3 separate regions of the Homo sapiens genome follow, and all the other regions are linked to region 3. The links come from fine-mapping of genetic effects on gene expression. A gene starts in region 3. Each other region holds a variant in brackets. All regions are shown on one strand. Distances are between the middles of the regions.

The links. PIP is the estimated chance that this variant, and not a neighbour inherited with it, causes the effect.
Region 1: its variant is the best candidate, but not a certain one, in a credible set for the expression of MAVS in whole blood (TOPMed, PIP 0.82).
Region 2: its variant is the best candidate, but not a certain one, in a credible set for the expression of MAVS in whole blood (INTERVAL, PIP 0.80).

The regions. Positions count from the first base shown.
Region 1 is chr20:4,049,525-4,053,761 of GRCh38, forward strand. No RefSeq gene overlaps it. Among named protein-coding and RNA genes, the nearest start is that of RNF24, 36 kb to the left of the region's middle. The variant G/A (reference allele first, on the strand shown) is at 2,629.
Region 2 is chr20:3,876,030-3,880,266 of GRCh38, forward strand. MAVS (mitochondrial antiviral signaling protein) reads left to right here. Exons shown (of 7, transcript NM_020746.5): 7 at 1-89. Among named protein-coding and RNA genes, the nearest start is that of PANK2-AS1, 11 kb to the right of the region's middle. The variant CA/C (reference allele first, on the strand shown) is at 2,291.
Region 3 is chr20:3,844,141-3,848,377 of GRCh38, forward strand. MAVS (mitochondrial antiviral signaling protein) reads left to right here and starts at 2,694. Exons shown (of 7, transcript NM_020746.5): 1 at 2,694-2,763. RefSeq lists an enhancer at 610-749 and silencers at 2,111-2,160, 2,591-2,970.

The sequences.
Region 1 (4,237 bases), 210 kb after region 3:
TCCTGACCTCGTGATCCACCCGCCTCGACCTCCCAAAGTGCTGGGATTACAGGCGTGAGCCACCAAGCCTGGCCAAGGATCATTTTTTATACAGGGTTTTGATTTGCTGTCCTGCTCCACTGGAAAACTTCCCTGCCAAGTTAGCGATAGACCTCAGCTAGCAAGACGGATGAGTTGAGTTTCTTCATGAAGCTACAATTCATATCCCAAACTGAAATTCTCATCTATGTCCCTGTATTAGTTCGTTTTCACACTGCTGATAAAGACATACCCGAGACTGGGAAGAAAAAGGTTTAATTGGACTTATAGTTCCACGTGGCTGGAGAGGCCTCAGAATCATGGCGGGAGACAAAAGGCACTTCTTACATATTGGTGGCAAGGGAAATGAGGAAAAAGCAAAAGTGGAAACCCCTGATAAACCCATCAGATCTCGTGAGACTTATTCACTATCACGAGAATAGAATGGGAAAGACTGGCCCCCATGGTTCAGTTACCTCCCCCTGGGCCCCTCCCACAACATGGGGGAATTCTGGGAGATGCAATTCAAGTTGAGATTTGGGTGGGGACACAGCCAAACCATATCAGTCCCTAAACTCACCCCTTCCACAGTCTCTCACTGTGTTTCTGGACTCGTTGCTCAGGCTAGAAACCTGGACTCCTCTCTGCTCATATTCTTCCACCAAACGATCGGCAATCTGATCATAAGTGCTTTCAAAATACCTGAACTTTTATCCCCTCCTCTGCTACCAGTCTGGTCTGGGCCACTATCACTTGTCACCTGGATTACTGCAGTATCCTTCTCTTCCTTCTCTCCAGCTTCTACCCTTGTTTCTCTTCCAACTCACTCTGCTCCTGATGTGATTCTCAACACAGCAGCCAGATTAATCCTTTAGAGGCTGAGACCATGTTCCTCCTCTGCTGGAAACCCTCCAATGTTCCAACAGCTCCCAGCCCACTCTAAGTATAAGCCACAGTCCTTACAATGTCTGTGAGGCCCTAGGTGATCTCCATCATACTTCCCTCCTATCATCTCCCTACTTTCTCCTCTTTGGTCACTCTGTGCATGTCCCTTTAATATGCTAAAGTTGCCCTTGCCTCTCAGCCTTTGCACTGGCTGTTACCCTGAATGGAATGCTCTTCCCTTTGATATCCACGTGGCTCCCTCCTTTACTTTCCTTCAGGCCTATCGACTTCACCAGCTCTATCTGTCTCTACAGTACTTACCACCATCTGACACATTCTATTTACTGGTTTATATGTTGTCATCGGTCTGTCTGTCTGTGTTGCTTATCAGCATGTCAAGCACACAGTTCAGGGACTTCGCTTAGTATGCACTTGTATCCCTAGTGCTCAGAACAGCAGGGGCCTCGTCATAGGCACTCAAATAAGAGACACAGTGGGGCCTAGGAACACCTAAAATGGAGAATCAAATCTGGCAGCTTCCAACCTTAGCTCACTAGTTGGGTGTTGTGTGTATTAAGGGGCTGCTAAGAGCATCCTTTGGGGATCTCTGTCTCCTCAGAGATTTAGGTGACTGCTATGATTTGAATACCTCCTCCAAAATTCACTTTGAAACTTAATCCTCGGCCGGGCATGGTGGCTCACATCTGTAATCCCATCACTTTGGGAGGCTGAGGCGGGTGAATCACGAGGTCAAGAGATTGAGACCATCCTGGTCAACATGGTGAAACCCCCTTTCTACTAAAAATACAAAAATTAGCTGGGCATGGTGGCGCGCTCCTGTAGTCCCAGCTACTTGGGAGGCTGAGGCAGGAGAATTGCTTGAACCCTGGAGGTGGAGGTTGCAGTAAGCCGAGATGGCGCCACGGCACTCCACTCTGGCAACAGAGCAAGACTTCGTCTCGAAAAGAAAGAAAGAAAGAAAGAAAGAAAGAAAGAAAGAAAGAAAGATAGAAAATCCTCAATGTGGCGGTACTGAGAGGTGGGACCTTTAAGAGGGATTAGGTCATGAGGGATCTGCTCTCATGAATGGATTAATCCATTTAAGGATAAATGGCTTAATGGATTAATGAGTTATCATGGGAGTGGAACTGGTGGCTTTACAAAAAGAGGAAGGGAGACCCGAGAAACCGCATTCAGCGCCCCCAACCATGCAATGCCTTGTGCCACCTGGAGACTCTGCAGAGTCCCACCAGCAAGAAGGCCCTCACCATATGAAGTCCCTCGACTTTGGATTCTCAGCCTCCATAACTGTAAAAAATAAATTTATCTCCCTTATAAATTACTCACTTTCAAGTATTCTAAGTAACAGAAAACAGACTAAGCCTGTAACATTAGGCCAAGCCCCCAAAAGCTCCTAGTCTCACAGCCTATGTGAGTTCAGTGTAGGCTTGGGAATTGGAGAAGCCTTCAGGAAATGATGAAATCAAGCTGGGCCTGGGAGCATAGGTGGAGTTTGGGTAGGCAGGGGACAGAAGGACAGTGTGGGCTAGCTTAGGGTAATGCTGCTTAGGTGAGTTACTAGGGGCAGGCACCCCGAACAGAGTATCCGAAGGGCTGCACCCAGCAGTGACACCATCACCTCTCTCCTGTCCTGACTGGGCCGGGCTCTGGGGGAGAGGTCCCAACACTGCCCACCTCTTCTTGTTCTCCCAATATCTGTCATCA[G/A]CTCCAGTTTGCATTTCAGTTATTTTTAGATTGTTTTTTCCTTAGCAGTGAAGCAAGCCTGTGGAAGGAAACATATTCCTTCTAAAGCAAGCCTGCAGTTTCTCTGGACAGGCAAGAGTGAGGCCGCCCGCCTAAACAAAGAGAGGTCTGACGTCTGCTAGGGTGTTCTGGGACTCAGTGGGTCCACCCCTGTCTTCAGTCTCGGACCTGGCTGCTCCCAGACCATTTCAAGCCTAAGACAATGACATATCTCGCTGGGTTTTGAAAGCTGCTAGAGGGGCTTCCTAACCTCCTTGGCTGTCCTCATCATAGCTGCCTCCACTCCCTAGCCCTGCGCTCAGTGTTTTTTGCAGGGAAGTTCTTCCTTAAGTCCAAACTGTGGCTCCAAAGATTTCGTTACCAAGGGAGAGAGGGAGTTGCCACTGATGCGCAGTGCTCAAATTGGACTGGGTGGCTTGCGTGGGATGGGTCTGGGAGAAACTGTCACAGAGGTCATGGGAATGATGACAGCTGCAACACACGGTGCCCCAGAGGCTTCTCAACCACTGGTAGGTAGGACGATAAGTAGGCAGGCAGCTGGCTGCAGAGGCCTCTTACTCACCCCATATTCTGCCCTGCCTGGGTTCTGGGCTCTCCTGAGCCTCAAGGTCTCTGCCCTTTCTTTAGAGAAGAGCTGGGTCCCAACTCACAGGACTTCCTCTAAACCCTCCTGGACCTCTTCCAGAGTCATGTCTGGGTCACTCTAAGGAAGGTCCTCACTGGGGACGGCAAGCTGTCTCAGGGTTTGGCTTCTCAGTCTTCTCCCAGATCAGGGCTCTTGTCCCAGGATATGTGGGGTTGGGCTGGGTTGAGCACCCCTGTCCCTTCCCATAACTTTGTTCAGGTTGTGGACTCCTTTAGCAGGCTGGTGAAGTCCATGAAACTCTTCAGAATAATGCTCTTAAATGCATAAGGTAAAATACACCAGATAACAAAGGAAACCAATTGCACTAAAATGCAGATATTAACATATTTTAATATTTATAAGATCCAGCAATCCCACTACTGGGTATATATCCAAAGGAAATGAAATCAAGGTGGAAGGACAGCTGCACTTCCATGTTTATTGCAGCACTATTCACAATATCCAAGCTATGAAACCAATCTAAGTGTCCATCAATGAATGGATAAAGGAAATGTGGTTTATATACAAAATGCAATACTATTCAGTCATAAAAAGAAGGAAACCCTGTCATTTGTGACAACATGCATGAACCTGGAGGACATTATGCTAAGCAAAGTGAACCAGACACAGAAAGACAAATACCACATGATCTCACTAATGTGGAATTTTTGAAAAAGTTGATATCATGGAAGCAGAGAGTAGAACAGTGCTTACCAGAGACTTGAGAAAGGAGCGGAGAAGGGAGGATGGGGAGAGGTTGGTCAATGGGTACAAAGTGACAATTAGATTGGAGGAATAAGTTCTGGTGTTTTATTGCATCGTGGGGTGATGACGGTTAACGGTAAGTTATTGTATGTTACTAAATAGCTGGAAGAGAGTCTTCTGAGTATTCTCACCACAAAGAAATGATAAACGCCTGAGGTGACGAATATGCCAAACATCCTG
Region 2 (4,237 bases), 32 kb after region 3:
TTTTCCTACTTGCTGTCATGATGATGTCCTTAGAATTGTGAGCCCGTGGACACTTCTGTACAATAAATCTGCTATTATTACTTCTAGAACTACAGTTATAATGGTCTACAATGGCCAGATGCCTGCTTGTAATGAGAAGCTACTGCAGTGAAGATCAACAGAGTCAGGGGGCTTGTCTGTGACCTCTCCTCCTTTTCCCTCCTGCCTTCTCCCTGGGGATGGGTGGGTTTCTACTTAAAGACAAGCTCCCAGCTCTCAGACAGAGAATGTATGAGAGCAAAACAGAAGTCACAGTCCTTTGGTACTTAATCTTGAAAGTGACATCCCAGCAGTTTTTTTTTTTTTTTTTTTTTTTTAAGACAAGGGCATGCTCTATCGCCCAGGTTGGAGTAGAGTGGAGTAGAATGTCTCACTGCAGCCTCAAACTCCTGGGCTCAAGCAATCCTCCCACCTCAGCCTCCTGAGTTGCTGGGACCAGAGGCACACGCTACCATGCCTGGCTAACTTTCATGATTTTTAGTAGAGATGCGGTCTCACTGTGTTGCCTATGTTAGTCTCAGACTGCTGGGCTCAAGTGATCCTCCTGGCTCAGCCTCCCAAAGTGCTAGGATTACAGGCAGGAGCCTCTGCATCCACTCCCATCACTTCTGTAAATTGCAGTCAAGGGGCAATTTACCCAGAAGTAGGAACCACTGGAAGCACCATTATAGCAGCTGCCTCTTCAGGAGGGGAATTTGATTCTGTCCTACAAAATGACATATGCATGTGTTTTTTGACCCAGCAATTCCATTTCTAGTAGTCTAAGCCAAAGATAACATTGGCAAAAATAAAGATATATGTCCAAGGCTAGTCATTATAGCCCACTGTGTAAATAGCAAAAGACTGGAAATAACTCAGACAATGTCCATCTACAGAACATTGGCAATAAACCAAGGTATATCTACATTGGAGTGCTATGCAGCTGTGAATAGAAATGAGTATCTCTATACTGCTATGGAGTGAACTCCATGATGTTTTGCTAAGAGGAAAAAAAAAGTGGAAAACTGTATATATAATATAGAATCTTTGGGCTGGGTGGTGGCTCATGCCTGTAATCCCAGCACTTTGGGAGGCCGGGGCAGGTGGATTATGTCAGGAGATCGACACCATCCTGGCCAACATGGGGAAACCCCGTCTCTACTAAAAATACAAAAAAATTAGCTGGCCATGGTGGTACGCGCCTGTAGTCCCAGCTACTCGGGAGGCTGAGGCAGGAGAATCGCTTGAACCTGGGAGGCAGAGGTTGCAGTGAGTCACGATCACAGCACTTCCAAAAAAAAAAAAAAAAAGACCTGACTCCAGTGGACTGAAACTCATCAAATAGGCTTTTAAAATCCATGAGTTGGCCAGGCGCGGTGGCTCACGCCTGTAATCCCAGTGCTTTGGGAGGCCAAGGCAGGTGGATCACGAGGTCAGGAGTTTGAGACCAGCCTGGCCAACATAGTGAAACCCCGTCTCTACTAAAAAAAAAAATACAGTCCGGGTGCGGTGGCTCATGCCTGTAATCCCAGCACTTTAGGAGGCTGAGGTGGGCGGATCACCAGGTCAGGAGATTGAGACCATCCTGGCTAACACGGTGAAACCCCGACTCTACTAAAAAAAAAAAAAAAAAAAAAAAAAAAATTAGCCAGGCATAGTGGCAGGTAGCCTGTAGTCCCAGCTACTCGGGAGGCTGAGGCAGGAGAATGGCGTGAACCTGGGAGGCGGAGCTTGCAGTGAGCCGACATAGCGTCACTGCACTCCAGCCTGGGCGACAGAGACTCTGCCTCAAAAAAACAAAACAAAACAAAACAAAAATAAGCTAGACGTGGTGGCACGCGCCTGTAGTCCCAGCTACTCAGGGGGCTGAGGAAGGAGAATCGCTTGAACCCGGGAGGTGGAGGTTGTGGCGAGCCGAGATCACGCCAGTGCACACCAGCCCCGGCAACAGTGTGAGACTCCGTCTCAAAAAAAAAAAAAAAAAAAAAAAAAACACCAGGCATGGTGGCGCACGCCTGTAATCCCAGCACTTTGAGAAGCCAAAGTGGGTGGATTCTATGAGCTCAGGAGTTCGAGACCACCCTGGGCAACATGGTGAAACCTCCTCTCTGCTAAAATAGAAAAAATTAGCTGGGCGTGGTGGCACTTGCCTGTAGTCCCAGTTACTCAGGAGGCTGAGGCAGGAGAATCGCTTGAACCCAGAAGGCGGAGGTTGCAGTGAGCCGAGATCGCACCACTGCACTCCAGCCTGGGCAACAGAGTGAGACCGTCT[CA/C]AAAAAAAAAAAAAAAAGCCACCAGTTCATGATAATACTAAAAAGAATTCATTGTTGACCTCTAGAGGATGCCCCAGGAAACCAACTCATTCTGAAAACTGGTCAGTAAAGGGAAAGAATTGATCCTGCCTTTTCTATTTGAGTAGTTCCAGCTCCTCTGGAGGCTGAGGTTGAGGTACTTCAGGATAACAAAGAGTTGATGAGGGAAGATTCTTTATAGAAATATTCCAGTTAGGCTGGGTGCGGTGGCTCACACCTATAATCCCAGCACTTTGGGAGGCCAGGCAGGTGGATCACTTGAGGTCAGGATTTCGAGACTAGACTGGCCAACATGTTGAAACCCCATCTCTACTAAAAATACAAAAGAAAAGTAGCTGGGTGTCGTGGTGCACAGCCGTAATCCCAGCTACTCGGGAAGCCGGGGCAGGAGAATCGCTTGAACCTGGGAGGAGGAAGTTGCGGTGAGCTGAGGTCGTGTCACTGCACTCCAGCCTGGGTGACAGAGTGAGACTCTGTCACACACACACACACACACACACACACACACACACACACAAATTCCAGTTAACCAAGCATAGAAGAAACTACCTGATTAGAAAATTACGGTAGGGGCTGTAGCCCCTAACGTAAGTAGTTAATGTTATGAATTTCTCTTCTCTTGATGAGATGAATAAAAAGTAAATAGTGAGACATGGTGGCTCACACCTGTAATGTTTTCACTTATAAGTGGGAACCACTTTGGGAGGCCAAGGTGGGAGGATCGCTTGAGGCCAGGAGTTTGAGACCAGCCTGGGCAACATAGTGAGACCCTTGTCTCTAAAAAAAAAAAAAAAAAAAAAATTAGCTGGGCGTGGTGGTGCACACCTGTACCTCCAGGTACTTGGGAGGCTGAAGTGGGAGAATTGCTTGAACCCAGGGGTTTGAGGCTGCAGTAAGCTGTGACTGCACCACTGCACTCTTGCTTGGGTGACAGGGTGAGACCCCGTCTCAAAAACAAAACAAAAATAGAAAAATAATGTTTAAAAAGGTAAATAGCACCTGTGAAGAATTCTTTTAAAGAAATCAAACCTGGGCCAGGTGCGGTGGCTCATGCCTGTAATCCCAGCACTTTGGGAGGCTGAGGCAGGCGGATCACCTGAGGTCGGGAGTTCGAGATCAGCCTGGCCAACATGGAGAAACCCATCTGTAATAAAAATACAAAATTAGCCAGGTGTGGTGGTGCATGCCTGTAATCTCAGCTACTCAGGAGGCTGAGGCAGAAGAATCGCTTGAACCTGGGAGGCGGAAGTTGTGGTGAGCTGAGATTGTGCCATTGTACTTCGGCCTGAGCAACAAGAGTGAAACTCCACCTCAAAAAAAAAAAAAAAAGGCAAAGCAATCAAATATAATATGTTAATATGTTGATCTCATTTGGAAACTAAATTGATTTTTTAAAAAATTTACTTAAGAGACTGGGTCTTGGTATGTTGCCTAGGCTGGACTCAAACTCCTTGTGTCAATCAATCCTCTCGCCTCAGCCTCCACTACAGGCTTTAAGAAATTAGCTCTAAGTCCTTATGGTAGGAAAGCTGTAACTCAGGTTACTGGATCATGGAGAGGCCAGGATTAGGTGACCTGAAAAATGTGGGCTTGGTCTCCATCATGATTGTTTAATTAAGACTCTTGGTTCCAGCTGGGCACGGTGGCTCACGCCTGTAATCTCAGCACTTTGGGAGGCCGAGGCGGGTGGATCACAAGGTCAGGAGATCGAGACCATCCTGGCTAACACGGTGAAACCCTGTCTCTACTAAAAACAAACAAACAAACAAAAATTAGCTGGGCATGGTGGCGGGTGCCTGTAGTCCCAGCTACTCAGGAGGCTGAGGCAGGAGAATGGCATGAACCCAGGAGGCGGAGCTTGTATTGAGCCGAGATTGTGCCACTGCACTCCAGTTTGGGTGAAAGAG
Region 3 (4,237 bases):
CCCGGGTTCAAGCGATTCTCCTACCTCAGCCTCCTGAGTAGCTGGGATTGCAGGTGCCCACCACCATGCCTGGCTGATTTTTGTATTTTTAGTAGAGACAGGGTTTCACCATGTTGTCCAGGCTGGTTTCAAACTCCTGACCTCAGGTGATCCACCCACCTCGGCGTCCCAAAGTGCTGGAATTAGAGGCGTGAGCCACCATGCCCAGCTAGATTATTGTTAACTGATCCAAAAGCCTTATTTGGATTTCACCTGAAGTCCTTTTTCTGTTTCAGGATCCAACCCAGGTTCCCATATTGCATTCAGTTGTCATGTCACTTTGGTGTCCTTTTCTCTGGAGCAGTCTCTCAGTCTCCTTGTTTTTCCTGACCTTGAAATTTTTGAAGAGTTATTCTGCAGAGCAGTGCTATCCAATAGAACTTTCAGTGATGATAGAAATGCTCTGTTTGGGCCTGACGCTGTGGCTCACACCTGTAATCCCAGAACTTTGGGAGGCTGAGGCAGGCAGATCACCTGAGGTCGGGAGTTTGAGACCAACCTGGCCAAGGTGGAGAAACCCCGTGTCTACTAAAAATGCAAAATTAGCTGGGCATGGTGGTGCATGCCTATAATCCCAGCTACTCGGGAGGCTGAGGCAGGAGAATCGCTTGAACCTGGGAGGCAGAGGTTGTGGTGAGCCGAGATCACGCCATTGTACTCCAACCTCAACAACAAGAGTGAAACTCTGTCTCAAAACAAAACAAACAAAAAAAATAGAAATGCTCTGTGTCACCGAGTATGAAGCCATTAGCTACATGAAAATAGCATTTGAAATGTGGCTCATGGGCCAGGTGCAGTGGCTCACGCCTGTAATCCCAGCACTTTGGGAGGCCAAGGTGGGTGGATCACTTGAGGTCAGGAGTTTGAGACCTGCCTGGCCCATATGGTGAAACCTCGTCTCTACTAAAAATACAAAAATTGGCCGGGCGTGGTGACATGCGCCTGTAGTCCCAGCTACTCGTGAGGCTGAGGCAGGAGAATCACTTGAACCCGGGAGGCGGAGGTTGCAGTGAGCCGAGATTGGGCCACTGCACTCCAGCCTGGGTGAAAGAGTGAGATTCTGTTTCAAAAAAAAAAAAAAAAAAAAAAAAGAGAAATGTGGCTCGTGGGTCTCAGGAACTGGCTTCTAAGTATTATTTAATTTTAATTAAAATAGCTACATGTGGCTAGTAGCCATTGTATTGGATAGGACAGCTGTCAAATGTCTCTCGTTTTGGGTTTGCTTACTGTTTCCCTATGATTAGTTTCAGATCATGAGCTTTTGATAGGAATACCATAAGCATGTTGTTGTGTTCTTCTTTGTCTAAATCTTTATAAAAGCTGTTGATAGGTGGCAGGGAACCACCTAGTCAGGCAGTGGGATTGTTTGAATGCTCTTTGAGGTCCAGCAAAGACAGGAGTGATAGCTGCACTTGGAAGCCCGCTCCTACACTTTCAATGTTCTTCCTGAAAGAATTAGATATGAAGCTGCTAGAGCTGCTCCGGTGGGGAGCAGGCAGGATTGATTCTTGAACTAATCAACATTTATGCCCTCTTGGCTAAACTAGGCAGAGCTGGTTTTATTACAGTTCAGGTGTGATTAAGCATACTTTGTAAATGCTGAAGGTTGTGAAATATTCACAGGGATATAAAGTACAGTAATAAAACCTCACTTGAGGCTGGGCGTAGTGGCTCACGCCTGTAATCCCAGCACTTTGGGAGGCCGAGGTGGGAGGATCACCTGAGGTCAGGAGTTTGAGACCAGCCTGGCCAACATGGTGAAACTCCGTCTCTACTAAAAATACAAAAATTAGCCGGGCGCAGTGGCATGTGCCTGTAATCTCAGCTACTTGGGAGGCTGAGGCAGGAGAATTGCTTGAACCCAGGAGGTGGAGGTTGCAGTGAGCCGAGATCGCGCCATTGTACTCCAGCCTGGGCGACAGAGCATGACTCTGTCTCAAAAAAAAAAAAAAAAAAAAAGAATAGAAGACCCTGTGCCTGGAAGATCGTAGGTGCTCAGTAAGTGCTGGCCTCTGCCCCAGAAGGGGAAGGGCGAGGCAGATGGCAGGAACTGCGGGAGGTACCTGTCCCAGGCCCTTGGGCGTAAGAGGCCTCTCCCACGCAGCACCCAACCCATACCCAGCCTGCCCGCCAGCCAACCTTGGCGTCCCTGCCTTGCGCCTACCTACCCAGCAGTCCCCCGCCCGCTCCCACTCCCACAGGCCCAGCGTGCACGTCTCCAGGATAGGCATCCTTGCCCCTGTGACTTCAGCGGCACCCAACGTTTATTGGGCACTAACTGTATGCCAGGCCATGGGGGTGCCGGAGAGAACGACACGAAGACCCTCACCCCTCAAAGTTCCCAGGGGGAGGAGGGGCTGCTTCACTTGGGAAGCGTGGGGATGGAATTCTCAGCCCCCCGATGACTCCGAGGCCGGCCACCTGCCTGGTTTCTGGCCGGACACCGGACTTCCCCTGGAAGTTGCTCGAGACTGCGCGCCCCCAGCAAAAAATCAGGTCGGTTCTCCGAGCCCAGTCTAGCGCTTCCCGACCCGCAAACCAAGGCCCAGTGACCGTCCCCGCTGCGCAGCCGCCTGCGTCGCCAGCCAACCACGCGCGGCCGAGTAGCCCCGCCCCTCCACATGGCCAATGGCCGCGCGCTCTGCCCGCCCCGCCTCCTCGCTGCGGGAAGGGTCCTGGGCCCCGGGCGGCGGTCGCCAGGTCTCAGGGCCGGGGGTACCCGAGGTAAGATCGCTTCCCGGGCGTTGGGTCCTTTCGGCTCAGCACGCACGGACGCCTTTAGGGAAGGTGGCTGCAGCGGCAGGACGGAGTCCGCCGGGACGCCCTGGGTCTGGGGTGCGCGGGGGGCCCAGGAGGGGACAGGACGCGCGGGGATCCGGAAGAGCGGGCCCTGTCGCAAGAGTTTCGGGAACACTGAGGGCTCCAGGCGCCGCATCCAGCATCCGGGGAAAAGGGGGTAGGTGGCGCTGGGCGTCTGCTCAGGCTGGGGGAAAGGTAGGGCCAGAAGGGGACGGGCAGCGGCCGCTGACCTCCTCCTGCCGCCCGCGGGCCCAGGGTGACGCTAAGGTGGGGCCGAGCCTCGACCGGGTGCGCCTAGAGGTCGAGTGCTGCCGCCCTCCGCTGGGTCTGGACAGTTCTCGGCGGCGACACCAGCTCAAAACGGCCTCCCCGCCCTCCGCGGACCTGGGTCGCGCCCAGGAATCCGATCCAAGGCTGTGAGGCCTGTCCCTTTGGGAAGGGTGGGTGTTTATTTCCGGGATGCACTCAGAGCCTCTGGACAGTCAGGTCGGAAACTTTGCTGTATTGGGAACACTCTGTCACCTACTTCCTTCTCAGTTGGGAAGGAAGTGCCAAGAAAACATGAAACAAACCAAAAACACGAAAAAGGGATTCTCTGTATGGAAGCCGTGAAGCCTCAAAAATATCTAGGAGGACAGCCAGCGACCTGGGACCTGTGGCAGCCATGTGAAAGCAGGGTTAATGTCTGGACTAAATGTTGCTTCCACCTAAGTGCACCCTCAGCCTCCCTCCCGCCAAGTGACCTTGGGTCCTCTTTGGGCTTGAAGGCAGGTGGCTGTGTGGGTCTCGCTGCAGGGGTCTCTGTGCCCTGCAAGGTGTATGACCAGTTGCAGTGAGGCAGCAGGTTTTGGGTTCAAATCCTGTGCTAGCCTCTGGCCAGCTGTGCACCTTGGCAACACTTTCCCTGTCACGGGATTGGGGAAGGATTAACTGAAAGAACCTTAGGATGTGCCTGTCTACAATGGGCCCTCCATAAATGTGAACAAATGTGGGCTTCCTTTCCTTTTGTTTGGGCCACATCATCCCTTCCCCTCCATCTGTGGCTGAAGCTGGAATGCAGAAGAGTGCCTCATCTGACTGCCTTCTGGTACCTGGCTGATGCCATGAGAAAGGAAGGAGAAAGGGGTCTTTTTTTTTTTGAAATGGAGTCTCACTCTCTTGCCCAGGCTGGAGCGCAGTGGTCCAATCTTGGCTCACTGCAACCTCTGCCTCCTGGGTCTAGAGATTCTCCTGCCTCAGCCTCCTGAGTAGCTGGGACTACAGGTGTGTGCCACCATGCCTGGCTAATTTTTGCATTTTTAGTAGAGACGGGGTTTCACCATGTTGGCCAGGCTGGTCTCAAACTCCTGACCTCAAGTGATCTGCCTGCCTCGGCCTCCCAAAGTGCTGGGATTCCAGG